2 separate regions of the Homo sapiens genome follow, and region 2 is linked to region 1. The links come from fine-mapping of genetic effects on gene expression. A gene starts in region 1. The other region holds a variant in brackets. All regions are shown on one strand. Distances are between the middles of the regions. Region 1 holds the start of SP4 (Sp4 transcription factor). Region 2 overlaps SP4 (Sp4 transcription factor).

The links. PIP is the estimated chance that this variant, and not a neighbour inherited with it, causes the effect.
Region 2: its variant is fine-mapped to the expression of SP4 in CD4 T cells (Kasela 2017, PIP 0.95). The same link has a PIP of 0.9 or more in NK cells.

What each region holds. Positions count from the first base shown.
Region 1 is chr7:21,423,099-21,431,436 of GRCh38, forward strand. It overlaps SP4 (Sp4 transcription factor), which reads left to right and starts at 4,985. Exons shown (of 6, transcript NM_003112.5): 1 at 4,985-5,160; 2 at 5,579-5,694; 3 at 6,191-7,745. The coding sequence starts at 5,154. RefSeq lists silencers at 3,919-4,308, 4,689-5,278.
Region 2 is chr7:21,510,362-21,518,699 of GRCh38, forward strand. It overlaps SP4 (Sp4 transcription factor), which reads left to right. Exons shown (of 6, transcript NM_003112.5): 6 at 661-4,461. The coding sequence ends at 908. Among named protein-coding and RNA genes, the nearest start is that of DNAH11, 29 kb to the right of the region's middle. The variant G/T (reference allele first, on the strand shown) is at 4,169.

The sequences.
Region 1 (8,338 bases):
TATGGTAACAACTATGCATGGTCCAGATGTACTAAGGAGGCTATTTGTTCTAAGTGAAATACGTTCACTGAGTCCTGTGTCTAATTTCTGGTTGGCTATACTCTCAGTTAATACACTTTTGAGCAAAGGTGGACGTTAAGCTTTGACTATTCTCTGGTTTATGGTCTCTCCAAATCTTTGCTATCTGCTTCCCAAATACAAAATGATTTGTATAACTTTCGGAGGGTGCTAGGAAAAAAAAAAAAAGAAAAAAAAAATGAAGCAGCTTAACAGTTATTTAAAGAGTAGCTTCCTGGCTGGGGGCAGTGGCTCACACCTGTAATCTCAGCACTTCGGGAGGCCGAAGCTGGTGGATCACGTGAGGTCAGGAGATCGAGACCAGCCTGACCAACATGGTGAAACCCCATCTCTCTAAAAACACAAAAATTAGCCAGGCATGGTGGCAGCCACCTATAATCCCAGCTACTTGGGAGACTGAGGCAGGAGAATCACTTGAACCTGGGAGGCGGAGGTTGCAGTGAGCCAAGATCACACCATTGCACTCCAGCCTGGGGAACAAGAACAAGACTTCGTCTCAAAAAAAAAAAAAAAAAAGAAACTTCCTAAAAGAGACACTCAAATACAGTCCCTTTTTCTCATTTATGCCATGAACTAGTGTCCAAGTCCCCTCCTTGGCAAGTCCCCTCATTGTTCCCCAACCCTCTGGATCTCTCAATTCCACAACTACAAGGATAATTCGTGGCAGAGGACTTCTACCTCTAGGACACTATTTCAGCTTTATGGACGTGTTTGAGCTGAATGGTCAGTGCTTAGTGTCATTAAATATTTCACATACAAATGCTGATTTCCTCTGTGTGTGTACACACTGGGCCATATGTAAAATATACTTATTCCTTTTTTTATTTTTTGAGACGGAGTCTTGTTCTGTCGCCCAGGCTGGAGTGCAGTGGCATGATCTCGGCTCACTATAGCACCCGGCTCACTATAGCACCCGGCTCACTGCAGCCCCTGACTCCCAGGTTCAAGGGATTCTCCTGCCTCAGCCTCCCGAGGCACTTGCCACCACGGCTGGCTAATTTTTGTATTTTTAGTAGAGATGGGACTTCACTATGTTGGCCAGGCTGGTCTTTAACTCCTGACCTCAAGTGATTCACCCAGGCTAGTCTTGAACTCCTGAACTCAAGCGATTTGCCCACCTTGGGCTCCCAAAGTGCCGGGATTACAGGCATAAGCCACCGCGCCTGGCCCAGGGTCATAAATTTTTAAAAAGTACACACTGGGCCAGCCATGATGTAAAATATATTTATTTCTGTGGGTCATAATTTTTTTAAAAGTTTGAAAGCCACTGTTTTCTAGGCAATAATGAGCATAGGAAGGAATGTTTTTAGACTGCTTCCTCAGGGAAAAGACCACCCTCGCAGGCCTGAGGCCGAGTATTTTGTTGAATTTATATTTACAATGTTGAAGAAAAAAATAATTCAGGATACTTGTTAAAGACAGCAATAAAGACTTTAGTCAAGGAGAGACTATCCAATGGGGTCTTGCAGTGGGAGAGAGAGATTGGGCTCAACTATGAATACAAAGACAACTAGAGATCTGAAGCCAAGGAGCAGGATGGAGTCAGTGGATGGAAAATTACTAAGGGGAAATTTCCAGAATAAAGGAGGATTCTGGCTAAACCAATTTAATGGGGTTATTGCTGAAGGCAGGCCAGGGTGCTAAGATATCGAGAACAGGGGATAAGGAATTTGATGAGATACCAAGTATGGTCAAATATTAAGGGTGAGGCGTTTTTACCCAACCAACCCAGCAGGATTCTTGCTAAAACTGGACTAAATGAACAAAGCCACTAAACTAAGGACAGAGTTCCAGGTCAGGACCTAGTCAGAAAGAGGACTTAGAATAACCAGATTAAAGTTTGGTCAAAGGAGAGAGTCTTTGTCAATATTACCTCCCTAGCAAAACTCGCTTTCCACCGGGTATCACACTGAGGACTTTTGGTTGTTATCTTCAAATAGAAGAGAGCAGAGGAAGGAAAAGCAAGCTCTTTCCTGATTCTTCTAAGGTCACCAATCTCATTCATGAGGACTCCAAATTTAATCCTAATTATCTCCCAGAGACCCTACCTTCTAATTTCTAATACCATCACACTAAGGGGTAGAATTTTTCCTTCCTTCCTTCCTCCCTCCCTTTCCCCTCTCTCCCTTTTTTTTTCTTTCTTTTTTTTTTTTTTTTTTTTGACACAGTCCCACTCTGTTGCCCAGGTTGGAGTGCACTGGTGCCATCTTGGCCCAATGCAACCTCCGCCTTCTGGGCTCAAGTGATCCTCCCGCCTCAGCCTCACAAGAAGCTGGGACTACAGGACAGCGCCACCACGTCGGCTAATTTTTGTAGAGCCTGGGTTTCACCATGTTGCCTAAACTGGTCTGGAACTGCTGGGCTCAAGTGATCCGCCCGCCTTGGCCTCCCAAAGAGCTGGGATAACAGGAGTGAGCCGCGCCCCGTGTAGAATTTCAACACATGAATGGGGAAGGGGGCAGAGAACACAAACATTCAGTCCATAACAGCCAGGGACTAGAAGACTTTGGTCCACCATAAAAAGCAGGACTTATGTTTCATGGATACCAGTATTCCCACTTATCTATAGGGTGGAGAATATTTAGGACTTTGCAGATTCATACTGATGGTAAGCATTATTATTATTATTATATATTTTTTGAGACGGAGTCTTGCACTGTCGCCCGGGGTTGGAGTGCAATGGCGTGATCTCAGCTCACTGCAACCTCCACCTCCCGGGTTCACGCGATTCTCCTGCCTCAGCCTCGCGAGTAGCTGGGATTACAGGCGCACACCACCACACCTGGCTAATTTTTTGTATTTTTAGTAGAGACAAGGTTTCACTATGTTGGCCAGACTGGTCGCAAACTCCTGACCCCCTGATCCACCCGCCTCGGCCTCCCGAAGCATTATTTTTAATCTATGGTTCAGAGTCAGTGACATTGCCTCTCTGAAGCAGGTTTTCCAAACGAAAACGACAATGAAAGCCCCAATTCATAAGACTGCAAAATGTCTTCATTTATCTTGGTGAACTGGGAGGAGGAGGGGACCTGAGGATAGAGACAGTATATACGTAAATGTAAGAAGCACTTTTGAGCTTTCTATATTGTACACGATGGGGAAAAAGCACGTTGTTCAGGGATCTCTGGCTCATTGTATAAGATGGGGTAGACAATACCATGTAATTCTTTATTCGAATTGCTTTGTCTTGCTGCATGGCTTTGTCATCAGCTGATTTTGCAATTACCTTAACAAGCAAAGGAAATGCCAGTCAAGTTCAGCATCTGGGACCTCCTCACCATTGCAACATGTCAGGCCTCAGGCAGGAGACAAAAATGCCCAAGGCTGAGTGTGAAGCCCAGGTAAGAAGTGAGACAATGGCTTTGAGCCTGGGGTGTAAGCATGCCTTGTTCCCAAGGCCAGTATTTACATGTGGGGTCACTTCCACCTTTGGTACAGTTAATCAGGCGCTGATTACGTTCCATGGCATCATCCTGACTTCAGGACTTTGTAGGAAAGCTGAGGCAGGACACTGCTCAAGTGCATTTGACAGTAAGATGCTTTGTGCAGCCAGATGTTAATTCCACTTGCCCTTACGCTTGCTTACGCTACACCGTAAGCGGGGCTGACCCTTATGGAGCTGGGCTTTTCTTCGCCCGGAGACTCTTGTCAGATAAGGCTTAGAACTCCGCCAACCACTTAGGCTTTTAGGCAAAACGCGATGCAACCCTTCTTAGAAGGCGGGTCACTGCTCTGCACCAGCTGCCAGCCAGAGAGACAACAAATAAAAATGGAAGATCCTTCTCCGTGAGAAAACAGGCCTCGGACTCAAAGCAGGGGGCCTGAGGGGAAGGTGAGCAAAGAAAGGCAAGGCGAGGGCGCTGCTTCAAGAAGCCGGGTTCATTCAAACCCCGAGGACAGCAAACCCCGCCTCCCCACGCCGCCGCCCGCTCAATCGCCGAGCGCTCCGGGTGTGAGCTCGCCCCGCGGGGAGCGGCTTGGAGCCGAGGAGGCGGCGGCAGAGGTGGTTTGGGCAGCCCCGCGCGGCGGATAGGCCCAGGCAAACAACACCCATTCCCCCTCCTCCTCGCTCAGTTCAACTCCCACTCGGCCCCGGCCACGCCCTGCCGCCACCGCCCCCTCGGGCAGCTTTCCGCTCGGCAGCCAGGCCTCGGTCGGGGGCGGGAGAGAGGCGGTGCCTCGAAGAAGGCACCGCGACCGCCGGAAACTACGAGTACCGACAGCCTTCGCGGTAGTGCCCCACCCCCTTTCTCCCACCACTCAGCGCGCGTCACCCTGGGCTCAGCCAATGGAGACAGAGCCAGGGAAAAAGGGCGCCCGGGTCCGGATGCGCCTCAGGAAAGCCATGCTCCCTGCGCGGGGGCAGCGGGCAGTTCACCCAGCGCGCCGACCTGTTGGTGGTCCGCGCGCGCCCACGTCCGCCGCTCTCGCTTGCCTGGATCAAGGGCCCTACTTTTTTCTTTAGTGGCAATTGGAGGGATTGCTGGAGGGGGTTTTTGAGTGGAGGGCGCTGGGAAATGAGTAGGGGGCGGGATATCCTGAGACAACAAGTTTGGCTGTATGGAGGGCCTACCGGCAGCGCTCCTGAGCTAGAACGCCGAGAGAAAGAGCGCCAGAGGAGCCAGGGAGGAGGAGAAGAGCTGCTAAAGGAATAACCCCGAGAAAGGGGGTGGAGAGGAGGCGGCCCCAGCGCCCCGGCCCCCGGCAGGTCGGCGGCCAATCCGCTGGGGGAAGGGGTGGAGAGTCGGAGGCTCCGGCGGAGAGAGGCCGAGGGGGGTGGGGAGTCGGCCAGGCTCGCACCGCCCTGGCCCCGCCCCCGACCCGCGCCGCCGCCCGCGCCGCGCGCCGCCGCTGTCAATCAAGGGCGAGTCAGCCGGGCTCGGGCGGAGAGAGGAGCTGCTACGCCACAGCCCAGCGGCGGCCATTCGCGGAAAAAGAGGCAGAGCCTGTGCCAGCTACAGCCTCCTCCGAGCCACCGCGGGCGGGCGGGACCGGCCTCTCCTCCCGCCTCGCCCCCACCCCCACCCACCTCTATCCCAGTGTCTCCGTCTGAGGGTTTGTCCTGTTAATGCGGGATGAGCGGTACGTATTCTCCACCCCCCTCAGTCTCCTTCGCCGCCTCCCTCTCTCCCTCCCTCCCCAGACCCTGCTCGGTTCTCCCCCCTCCCCCGGGGCCGCTGAGATGCTTTAAGGGGAGGAGGAGAGGGCGGGAGGGAATCGGGGAGGGAAGGAGGGTTGTGTTTTGTCTTAATGTCTGAGAGAGAACAACCTCCTTCTGGGTGTTGCTCTGGAGCCGATGGGTCGGGTTTCAAACCACGTTTTGTGATATCCCCCTCCTCCCTTCCCTCCTTCTCCCCCACCCCCTGCCGGTGTGCGTGGATCGCGGGTTTATGGAGATTAATGTTCGGGGGGAGGGGGGAGAAGAGGAGAGGAAGAAGACGAATAATAATAATCCTAATAACCTGTTGTCGTGTGTGTGTGGTGGGGGGGTTTGTTGCAGATCAGAAGAAGGAGGAGGAGGAGGAGGCGGCAGCGGCAGCGGCGATGGCTACAGAAGGAGGGAAAACCTCTGAGCCAGAGAATAACAATAAAAAACCCAAAACCTCAGGCTCCCAGGTAAAAGCAAACAAATTAAAAAAATTCATCACGACACATTAGGAGAGAGAGGGAGTTATGCCCTTTGAATGTCCAGAAGTAACAGAATAAAATGTTTATCCACTCAAAGCATCTTTCTGAGAGTGTGGAACTTAAATTGTAAATTCATCAAGTTTTCACCTCTTTGAGGGTATAACGCTGTTTAAAATTACATCAGGAATTCAGACTATAAGAAAACGGTGTGTGTGTTCCCAAGGGCATTTTGAGTTTAGGAACATAACACTTTACAAAGTTGTAAAGAAATTTCCTTTTATTTAAACTTGATATTATAGGACTTGCTTCCTTATTCATATAGTTCTTATCTACTTTTGTTCGTATTTCTTTTTGATTTCTGCTGCTTCCTAAATTGTTATGTAGAGCTGTCAAAATAAGTAACCCCCTGGCAACTACTGGCCTCCACTAAATCCGCCCACTTTTTTTCCCCCCCCCCTCTCCTTTACCGTCCCATTTTGGGTAGGACTCTCAGCCCTCTCCTCTGGCTTTACTGGCAGCTACTTGCAGCAAAATAGGGACTCCTGGTGAAAATCAAGCAACTGGACAACAACAAATTATTATAGATCCAAGTCAAGGATTGGTGCAACTTCAAAATCAACCACAACAGCTAGAACTGGTAACAACGCAACTTGCTGGAAACGCTTGGCAACTTGTTGCCTCCACTCCTCCTGCTTCAAAAGAGAATAACGTTTCTCAACCAGCCTCTAGTTCGTCTAGTTCTTCCAGCAGTAATAACGGGAGTGCATCTCCTACAAAAACTAAATCAGGTAATTCTTCCACCCCTGGTCAATTTCAAGTCATACAAGTACAAAATCCAAGTGGTAGTGTACAGTACCAAGTAATTCCACAACTTCAGACAGTGGAAGGTCAACAAATTCAAATCAATCCAACTAGTAGTTCATCTCTACAGGATTTGCAGGGTCAAATTCAGCTCATTTCTGCAGGTAATAATCAAGCTATACTCACAGCTGCTAACAGGACAGCTTCTGGGAATATTCTTGCTCAAAACCTGGCAAATCAGACAGTTCCGGTCCAAATTAGACCTGGTGTTTCAATACCACTGCAGTTACAGACTCTTCCTGGTACTCAGGCTCAAGTTGTAACAACCCTACCAATTAACATTGGAGGAGTGACTCTAGCTTTGCCAGTGATAAACAACGTGGCTGCCGGAGGAGGGACTGGGCAGGTTGGCCAGCCTGCTGCTACTGCTGATAGTGGGACTTCCAATGGGAATCAATTAGTTTCCACACCCACCAACACCACTACTTCTGCCAGTACTATGCCAGAATCTCCCTCCTCCTCCACTACCTGCACAACCACTGCTTCAACGTCTTTGACAAGCAGTGACACATTAGTGAGCTCAGCAGATACTGGCCAGTATGCAAGCACATCAGCCAGTAGTTCTGAACGCACCATTGAAGAATCTCAAACACCTGCTGCTACTGAGTCTGAAGCCCAGAGCTCCAGTCAGCTTCAGCCTAATGGAATGCAGAATGCACAGGATCAATCAAATTCTCTTCAGCAGGTGCAAATTGTAGGCCAACCTATCTTACAGCAGATCCAGATCCAACAGCCTCAGCAACAGATCATTCAGGCTATTCCACCACAGTCGTTTCAACTCCAGTCAGGGCAGACGATTCAGACCATCCAGCAGCAGCCTTTACAGAATGTTCAACTTCAAGCAGTAAATCCGACTCAGGTGCTTATCAGGGCTCCAACTTTAACACCTTCAGGGCAAATCAGTTGGCAAACTGTACAGGTTCAGAATATTCAGAGTCTTTCAAATTTGCAAGTTCAGAATGCTGGGTTATCCCAACAATTAACCATCACCCCAGTGTCTTCAAGTGGTGGCACAACTCTTGCTCAGATTGCTCCTGTGGCTGTTGCTGGTGCCCCAATAACTTTGAATACTGCCCAGCTTGCATCAGTGCCTAACCTTCAGACAGTGAGCGTTGCCAACCTGGGTGCTGCAGGTGTTCAAGTGCAGGGAGTTCCCGTTACAATCACTAGTGTTGCAGGTAAGTTCTGACATCTTTTTAAGTACCTTTTAAATAGTTTTTCATAACAATTATTGCTTTTCTCTCCTAATTCTAAGGTTTGACGTAGACCTCTGAAGTAAACACACAATCATAAGGAACCAGAAATAGCAATATTATACTAACAAACATAGCTCTGTAGTAATCAATGTGACATGTTCACTTTTGTAGATTTTATAATAATGTGTTAAATTTGTTAGTTTTTTAAAAAGTATTGTTTTATGGGACAGAGCTTTCTGATTAGAATCATAATTGCCTTCTGTAATTTAGTGGTCTTATTTGAGTACATTCCAGCTCTTCAGAAAGAACCCTAGTCGAAATGATATTTATCTCTTCTTTGAGGGAAAGTAGTTTTAAACTGAATTGGTATATATAATTGTGAGTCTGTTGAACTTTTAATTCTGTGGTGTAATAAGGCTAACTTTTTTTTAGTGGAAGTTATTTCTCAAGCTTCAGCATCTTGTCGCCCATGCTTTTGTGTTTTATTACACTGGTTTTAAACTAGATACTGATGCAGTTGAGAGATAATTTTAAGTTGTAAATTGTTTGGTTAACTTTTATGCCTACTTTTATGC
Region 2 (8,338 bases), 87 kb after region 1:
AGTTAACATTAAACTAGCTTTTATTCCAAAACAAAGAAGTCGGTCCAGTAAAACTATCTTATATTTTGAAGAAAACATATTTAAGAATTGCTTTGGACAACAGAAACTGTTATCTTATGAAACCTAAAAACTTTATTAAATTCTGAATGTAGCATGTGCCTGCCTCCCATTTTTGCCTTGTAAAGAACTCAGTATGCTATTAAATTATTAACTTAGTTTATTTGAAATAGTTCCAAGATATTTCATGCCTCCAAGATTAAAACTAAAACCCAGGTTAGCAGTTTTGAAGAAGAGTGGACATGAGCCTTGAACATTATATATATTTGTTACATCTGATAGAGATATTTTAAATTGTCTGCTAAAAACCCTCTTGCTTTGTAGATGGGAAAACTGAGAGTTCCAGTGGCTATTTACTTGCTCCAGCTTTTATTTCCAGTTCATAGCAGAAGCAGGACTTAAACTTCAGGTCTTTTCGTCTCAATCACATGGTCTTTCTCTTTGCATTGTGTATTTGATAACGTTTTTAAATAAAACAAAGCATTTTGCAACTAGTGAAACTGTACAAAAAGTCATATAATGTGACCAGAAGGGAGATTATTAAAAATTATAATTTCACTTAAGCAAAATGTGTATAACGCCATTTACTGTTTTTCTATGTAGGTGAAAAGAGATTTGAATGCCCGGAATGTTCTAAAAGGTTTATGCGGAGTGATCATCTCTCCAAACATGTCAAAACGCACCAGAATAAAAAAGGTGGTGGGACAGCTCTTGCCATTGTTACCTCGGGAGAACTGGACTCATCTGTTACAGAGGTGCTTGGCTCCCCAAGAATTGTCACAGTTGCAGCCATTTCTCAAGATTCGAATCCAGCAACTCCCAATGTTTCAACCAACATGGAAGAATTCTGAAAAGTTATTTATAACAGAGACCTCTAGTGCTGCACTTGTTTACACACCTTTGAAAATCTGGAAATGGGCTGGTCAAGTGGATTACAGAGTAGGAAATTATGTTTTCATTCTTGGCTTCTTTAAGTATTCCAGGGTTTGGGGTCAACACGTGAAGTGTTGAATTTTAAAAAATACAAAAAGCAGACTGATGTACTGGAAACAGAAAAGTATTTCCTCCATACTATAAGTTGTAGTTGTTTGGAAATATATCACATAACCTTTATACAGAATCTTCCCATCTCTTAATATCATGTGTTAACATGTTTAAAAAGACCTTAGTAGTTTGCAGGCTGGACCTTAATTGGACTTATTTTCTTTGAAAGTACTTTGTTATAAATTCAGTCAGTAATAATTTACGTGTATTCTTTTTCTCTATAGCACAGAAAACAGATAGTTAACTGATGATAGGGATAATACTGTATTTCCTTAGCTTGATTTTTGGAAAATCAACCGAAAATAGTTTGGCCGTCTTTTCTAAATGTTAGAAATTCTTCAACAGTTGAATTAGGTAAGTTCCAAAACAGTAATCTGAGATGCATCTCAGATCTTTATTACCACTACATTATAGTAGTGTGTATGCAGACAATCAGTGAAGTCCAATTACTTTCTCCATTTGGAGACACAAGAGGAACATAGAGTTAAATCTTAGGTTAAATTTTAGGTTGACACCTTAGGAAAATGCTGGGAAAAAAATGGTTAAAACAAAACTCATCATAGCTTCAGAAAAATAAAATGAGGCATCTTAACATGCAATGTTCTAAAGTTAGGATTGATTATATTCCTAACCCTAGGTTGAACCACAAAATTTCATTTAAAATGTTTATATTTGGAAATATTTGCATAGAGTGTAAATTGTTCTGTAGTTTCATATTTTGTAAATATGAGTTATGTTGACAATGTGCAGAATTCTTTATGCTTTGATGTGGTAGCCAAAGAAAGAATTACACTTTTTTCCAAGGCCAGCAGAAAATTCTCTTTTAACTACATTGTAATTCTTGTTTTCCTCTACTAAAAATTGGCCAGTCCCATTTTATTTCTAGTGCTATGTAAGAAGGTAATTAGGAATTATAACACAGTAATGTTTTTATGTTACATCAATAACTGAATTTTCCCTAAAAATTAGCCTAATATATAATAGATATATTATGAAGCAAAACTTTTATTTTTGAAAAGGCAGAATAATTTTCAGTGAAGTAAGTGACTAAAGAAAAAAACTATATTATTGTTTATGCAAGGGTCTTACAGGAAAGGGTCTTTTTTTTTTTTTTTTTGAGATGGAGTCTCGCTCTCTTGCCCAGGCTGGAGTGCAATGGCACGATCTCAGCTTACTGCAACCGCCGCCTCCCAGGTTCAAGCGATTCTCCTGTCTTAGCCTCCTGAGTAGCTGGGATTAACAGGCGCCTGCCACCATGCCTGGCTAATTTTTGTATTTTTAGTAGAGACAGGGTTTCGCCATGTTGGCCAGGCTGGTTTCAAACTCCTGACCTCAGGTGATCTGCCCACCTCGGCCTCCCAGAGTGCTGGGATTACAGGCATGAGCCACCATGCCCGGCTAGGAAAGGGTCTTACTAGGAAAGATGGCCAAAAGTTTCATATGAAAAAAATTGGATTATAAACCAGTAACTTAAATATTAATAAGGATATTTTATGTTTTAAAAAAGTATTTACACAGAATCATAATCAGTGAAATTGACCATTTGAAAACTAAAAGTTTTTACCTACCTGCTCAATTTATTAACATCATTGCTTTGGGGACTGTTTGAATATAGGTACGTGTTTTCTTGTGCATTCTCTATAATTTCAGGAAAAGTACTAATGCGAATTCTCTTCCAAAATTGTGATGTTTCTTGTATTTTTGATGAAGGAGAAATACTGTAATGATCACTGTTTACACTATGTACACTTTAGGCCAGCCCTTTGTAGCGTTATATAAAACTGAAGGTCTTTTGTGCTTTCAGTTTGTATAAAAAAGCTTTGAGATTAAAGGAAAAAAAAAATTTTTACACTGTGGTTATAAATTTCAAGTTTCTTAAAGCTTTTGTAGACTTGTAACAGAGTCTTTAAATTTAAGTTGGATTTTGTAAATTGTTTTGTATATTTTATTTAATGTACTCTTAACAACTGATGTATCTGGCTTTAAAACATCAGAATTGGTTTGTTGTTTTGTTTGGTACAGAGGAGCATTTGGTAGTGTTCATTTTAATTTTATTATATAGGAGCTGAAACATCAAATATATATTTTATCTATCATTATGCTACACAATCAGTGCTATAAATTTTTTTATGCAAAGAAACTTTCTTAATGTTTTAATCATGTTTCCTCAGAGTGACACTTTTTGTTGTTGTTAATACCAAGTATGAACACTCTGCATCATTATTCCATGAACCAGTTCTAATGCAAACCTATGTATGTCCATTAGAAATGGAAGTTATTTTTTAATCAACAATGAGGCCTATTATAAATTTATCAGATGAATCTAGATAGCTTTATAGCATATAAAATATGTTAATTTGTGTTAGCAGGTGCACATTTCACCACTGAAATTAGAAATATTTTGACAGTCTGTTCTGCATACCATTCTGAGTCTACTTTTCTGTCTTTAGAAGAATCGTAAATTTCAGTGTCCTTTATTTGACTCAGTGGGATATAGCTGTTATAAGTAATAGGGCACAGATGTGCAGTAGAGTCTTGTTTAATGGCATTTCACTGTTCATTCCCTTTACCACCGTTATAAAACTTTTCTTTATTGTAATTATCAGTGCAAAGCTATGTATTTATCATGGTAAAACTCCAGTGTTAGAATAGTTTTTTCTTACAGTATACTTTCTTTGGTTAGGTTTGTGTATGTGTTGCTGATTACATTAGAACTTGATGTTAAGTCATTTATCACACTCTCATGAGAGCAGTAATAAAAGTGTGTAATCTAGGAGAAAAAGTTAATTTGTCAAACTTAGATAAGCATGATGTTTAGGTCCTATTTTTCAATTTTATAACTGTTTTATTGCAACAATATTTGTATTTAAGTCTCCATTTTAATGCCTTGTGGTGTTTTTTTATGCATGTCACTAAGTTGTCATCCCACATAAATTGATGTGCAGCATAGGGTATTAAATCTACATAATGATTTTAAAACAGAAATAGTTGATGGTAAAATGTAAATGTTTTGCAAAAATTCCTTATAAAAAGTTTTGTAGTAACATTTCACTTGTAAATTTTTTTT[G/T]TAAAAAAAAAAAAATGAAAAAAAAAGATGAATCCAGAAAAAAACCTGTTTCCCATATTCTAGAATTTAGACAATTATTCTGCCAGCAAAGCCTCTGGGGCTGTAATTGACATTTTTACAGTGCTGATTTGTATAAAATTTGTTTTTTGTGGATTTGGAAATAAAATCATGTACAAGTTGTTGCCTGCAATAACAATTGCAAGTAACCTATTAAAAATTCCCTTGAGTTTAACATGTTTCATTTAATTATGTATACTATAAAGCAGCAATAAATTATTTGAACTATCAACCTACTTATCATGAACACTGGAGAGTTAAATGCTTCTCACTGGAGAACACATTGGCCACCGTTCGTAATTCCTCGTATTGAGATCTGGTCACCATTTCTCTGAACATACCGCCAAAGAACTCCAATTCAAATTGCATGTTAATTTGTAGCCATTGCTCTAGACATTTATGGAAATTAAAATTTGATTTAGAGACACTTTTTACTTAAATATTTTAAGCAATCAATGTTAGGAAATTATAGGAAGACCTGAAAACGAAAAACATAATTAAAATATTATTTAAGCTCACAGAATCACTGAGAAGCAATATAGGCCACATAGATGCCACAAAGACTACAAGCAGAAACTGTCTTCCTCCTGGGAGAGCCCTGCAAATCTCATGAAGACCTTTAGTAACATAATGAATACATTATTGTAACAACTTCAGCTAACACATTTCCAGACTCACACCAGATATAGACATAGCAAAGCGAGGGTTTGGCCCAGGGTGGCGGAGGTAGGATGTTAGGCAGCAAGAGAAGTACGCTGGCCCACTGACAGAAGACTCCAAAGACTCTAGGTTTTAGGTAGTAAGCAGGGGCTACAAGGTGTTTGGACAGAGAACCTTGTACAGCAAGGTCCTAAAGGCATAGTTGTGTTACAACTTTGTAAAATAATGTGTTCATAACACTGACTGAATCAAAGAATTTATGCTACTCTGTCAAATAAGACAGTAAGGAATTGTCAAAGGATGTTTTCTATCCAAAGTAAAGATACACTTCAATTACCTGAAAAATTCGCATTAGAAAGCATCAGGATGATATCGTATAAAAGGGGATAATGCAGGCCAGGCGAGGTGGCTCACGCCTGTAACCCCGGAGCTTTGGGAGGCTGAGGTGGGTGGATCACGAGGTCAGGAGTTCAAGACCAGCCTGGCCAACATGGTGAAACCCCATCTCTACTAAAAATACAAAAATTAGCCGGGCGTGGTGGCGTGCGCCTGTAGTCCCAGCTACTCGGGAGGCTGAGGCAGAATTGCTTGAACCCAGGAGGTGGAGTTTGCAGTGAGCTGAGATCACGCCACTGCACTCCAGCCTCGGCAACAGAGCGAGTCTCTTGTCTCAAAAAAAAGGATAATGCAATTAGAAAATGTCATTGTGTTTTTCAATTTTTAATATAGTTTGCTTCTTGTACTTCTAGAAATTTCAGCCACATGAAAAAGACAATAATAAAGAAAAAGGGATAAATCACCTTGAAAATTGACAAAAGCTGTTGGTGTAGTAAGTTAGGAAAGCTGAAGCAGTGCTAAAAGCAATACTAATAGGGTGTGGTTTACAATGCCATTGGTAATGACAACTTGAAAATAGAAAAATATACAGTATTGTTTATTTTTTAATTAAAAGTTCAGATGCTTAATTTCAGGGGTGCAGAGACTTCAAGTGTCACAGCAAACTTGAAATACTTTATTCCTTTGTGAAACTGAATAATATATTGCTATATTTACTGCCTGAACAGTAATGTCTGCTTAATATACACACAACCAACTTGTAATTCGGTAGCAGGACTTTTAAGGCATGTATTTTCCATTCTTTTAAGATTGGCTGATTAGCATAAACCTTGGGCTCTGTTCCTCTTAGTAACAGGTGGCAATGAAATAATTTATTTTTGGATACCTGAGAGTAATGTCAAGCAGAAATAGTGGAAGGAAGGAAGAGAGAAAGGAAAGGAAAAGGAGCATAAAGGCCTATTTATAATGCAGTGGGTTGATCTCCCTGGTTAATAGCTAAGCACCGTGCCAAAAGAGATCAACGGAGAGTCTGAGGATTTCAGGCTGGATTCCTGGTTCAGCCACTTAGTAGGCACACAACCGTGGGCAAGTTATTGAACTTTTAAGCACTTATTTTTTTCTACTTCATAGAATAAAAGAGCAATGCTTATTAATGTTAAGCATTATGAATAATACATAGGTCTGTTAAGATCAAACAAGAAAACTATATTGAGTAACACATAGTTGTGTTTAATACGTTATTATTGTTAATTATAAGTTAACCCAAAAGGCAGACGGGTGTCTTAGTCCATTCGGGCTGCTATAACAAGATAAACTAGACTAGGTAGCTTATAAACAACAGAAATTTATTTCTCACTTCGGAGCTAGGAAGTCCAAGGTCAAGATTCTGGCAGATTCAGTGTTCATTTACTGGTTCATAGATGGTGACTTCTAGCTGTGTCTTCACATGGTGAAAGGGACAAGACAACTTTCTGGGGCCTCTTTTGTAATGACGCTAATCCCATTCATGAGAGCTCTACTGTCATGATCTAATCATTTTTCAAAGGTTCCACCTCTTAATATCACTGGTAATATTATTGGTAATTGGGTTTCAACATGAATTTTTGGGGGGCACAACTGCTCAGACCATAGCAGGGGGCATGGAATAGTTCCCACCTGGACCAATGCTGAAATGTCTTGAAAATGGGCAACAATACATCAAAAAGTTAATTCTCAAATCCCATTTTAAAAATGAAATTTCAGTGGGAATTTCCAAATTCAAACATATTTTTCTCAAACTGTGAGCTACTTTGCCATACTCTACCTCAAAATTTTATGACAGTCTTTTTCCAATTCTAAGAAAAATAAAAGGTTTAAATCTTAGTTACTTTCTTCCCCCCCCCCCCTTGAGCCAAGGTCTCACTCTGTCACCCAGGCACACACCACCATGCCCAGCTGGTCCTGGGCTCAAGCGATCCGCCTGCCTCCACCTCCCAAAGTGCTGGAATTACGAGCATGAGCCACTGCGCCTGGCCTAATTCCTAATTTTTAAATGTTAATTACAATTACTGTTTGCCTACCTCAAAGTGATAACAGACAAGCACACCGGTGAACAAGAAGCAAACCAATTACTGAAAAACAGAAACAGCTGCTCATGTGTTGTTCACTAACTTTTGTGGGTTTATGTGTGGATGATTTTCTATATTTAAAAGCATTCTCTATATTTAGAAATATATGTGTTAAATAAACCCAGGCATACAGGGCAAATGTACCCCTCTTTTCAGCTACCTACCAAATTGCAGCCAAAAAAAGAAAACATGGAATGTGGAGTTCAAAAGTTTCTTAGACAACTTCCTCTCAGACTTGGTTCAGAAAAGGATAATAGGATGCTCTACTTTTACTTTGCTTTTTAGATTCTTTGTGAAATAAGATAGGATATAGAATAAATGTCTAAACTTATAATGCCCTGCAAGGCTGAGGCATCTCTGCTGGCTGTAGCTTCAGTTGTCCAGTTACAGCCTTCTTGCCCATTTAACTCTTACCTTTGCTTCAGATCCTGTTCTTAACTCTGAGTTGCTCTGCTCATTCCCAAGCTTACCTTTGTTGGAGATGCTTTTTCCAATTAATACATTTATGGAGCACTTACTGTGTGTCAGATTCAGGCACAAGGGATGCTGTTTTTCTTTTCTATGCTAACTCTGCCTTCTTGCATCCCAACCTCAGCTGGATTTCTGGAGCTCCTTGAGATCCATTTACCCTATGCCTAGGAATGGGCAGGCCAGCAGTTGCAGAGATACTGGAGTCTATTGAGACCATATCTACGGGGAGGAGCCGAGGCTCAGGTAATCTGAAGCAAGTTAACAGGTTTCAAGTCAGGGTCAGAGACTTAAGAAATCAGATGTGGGTGTTAAGATCAGACAAAAGCAAATTATAGGGAACAGGAGAAAATTAAACGAGCAGTTGTCATAAACGCCAGTTTGTCTTTGAATCATGTCTTTCTAGGTGGTTGGCTTGGTTCAAATTTTGTTATTTATTATCCTGCTATGAATTGTGGTTTCATAAATATTTTATTTATAGTAGTAGTATTTTTTAGATGTTTAGATGTGGAAACATAATAACGTTATATTTTCTGCTGGT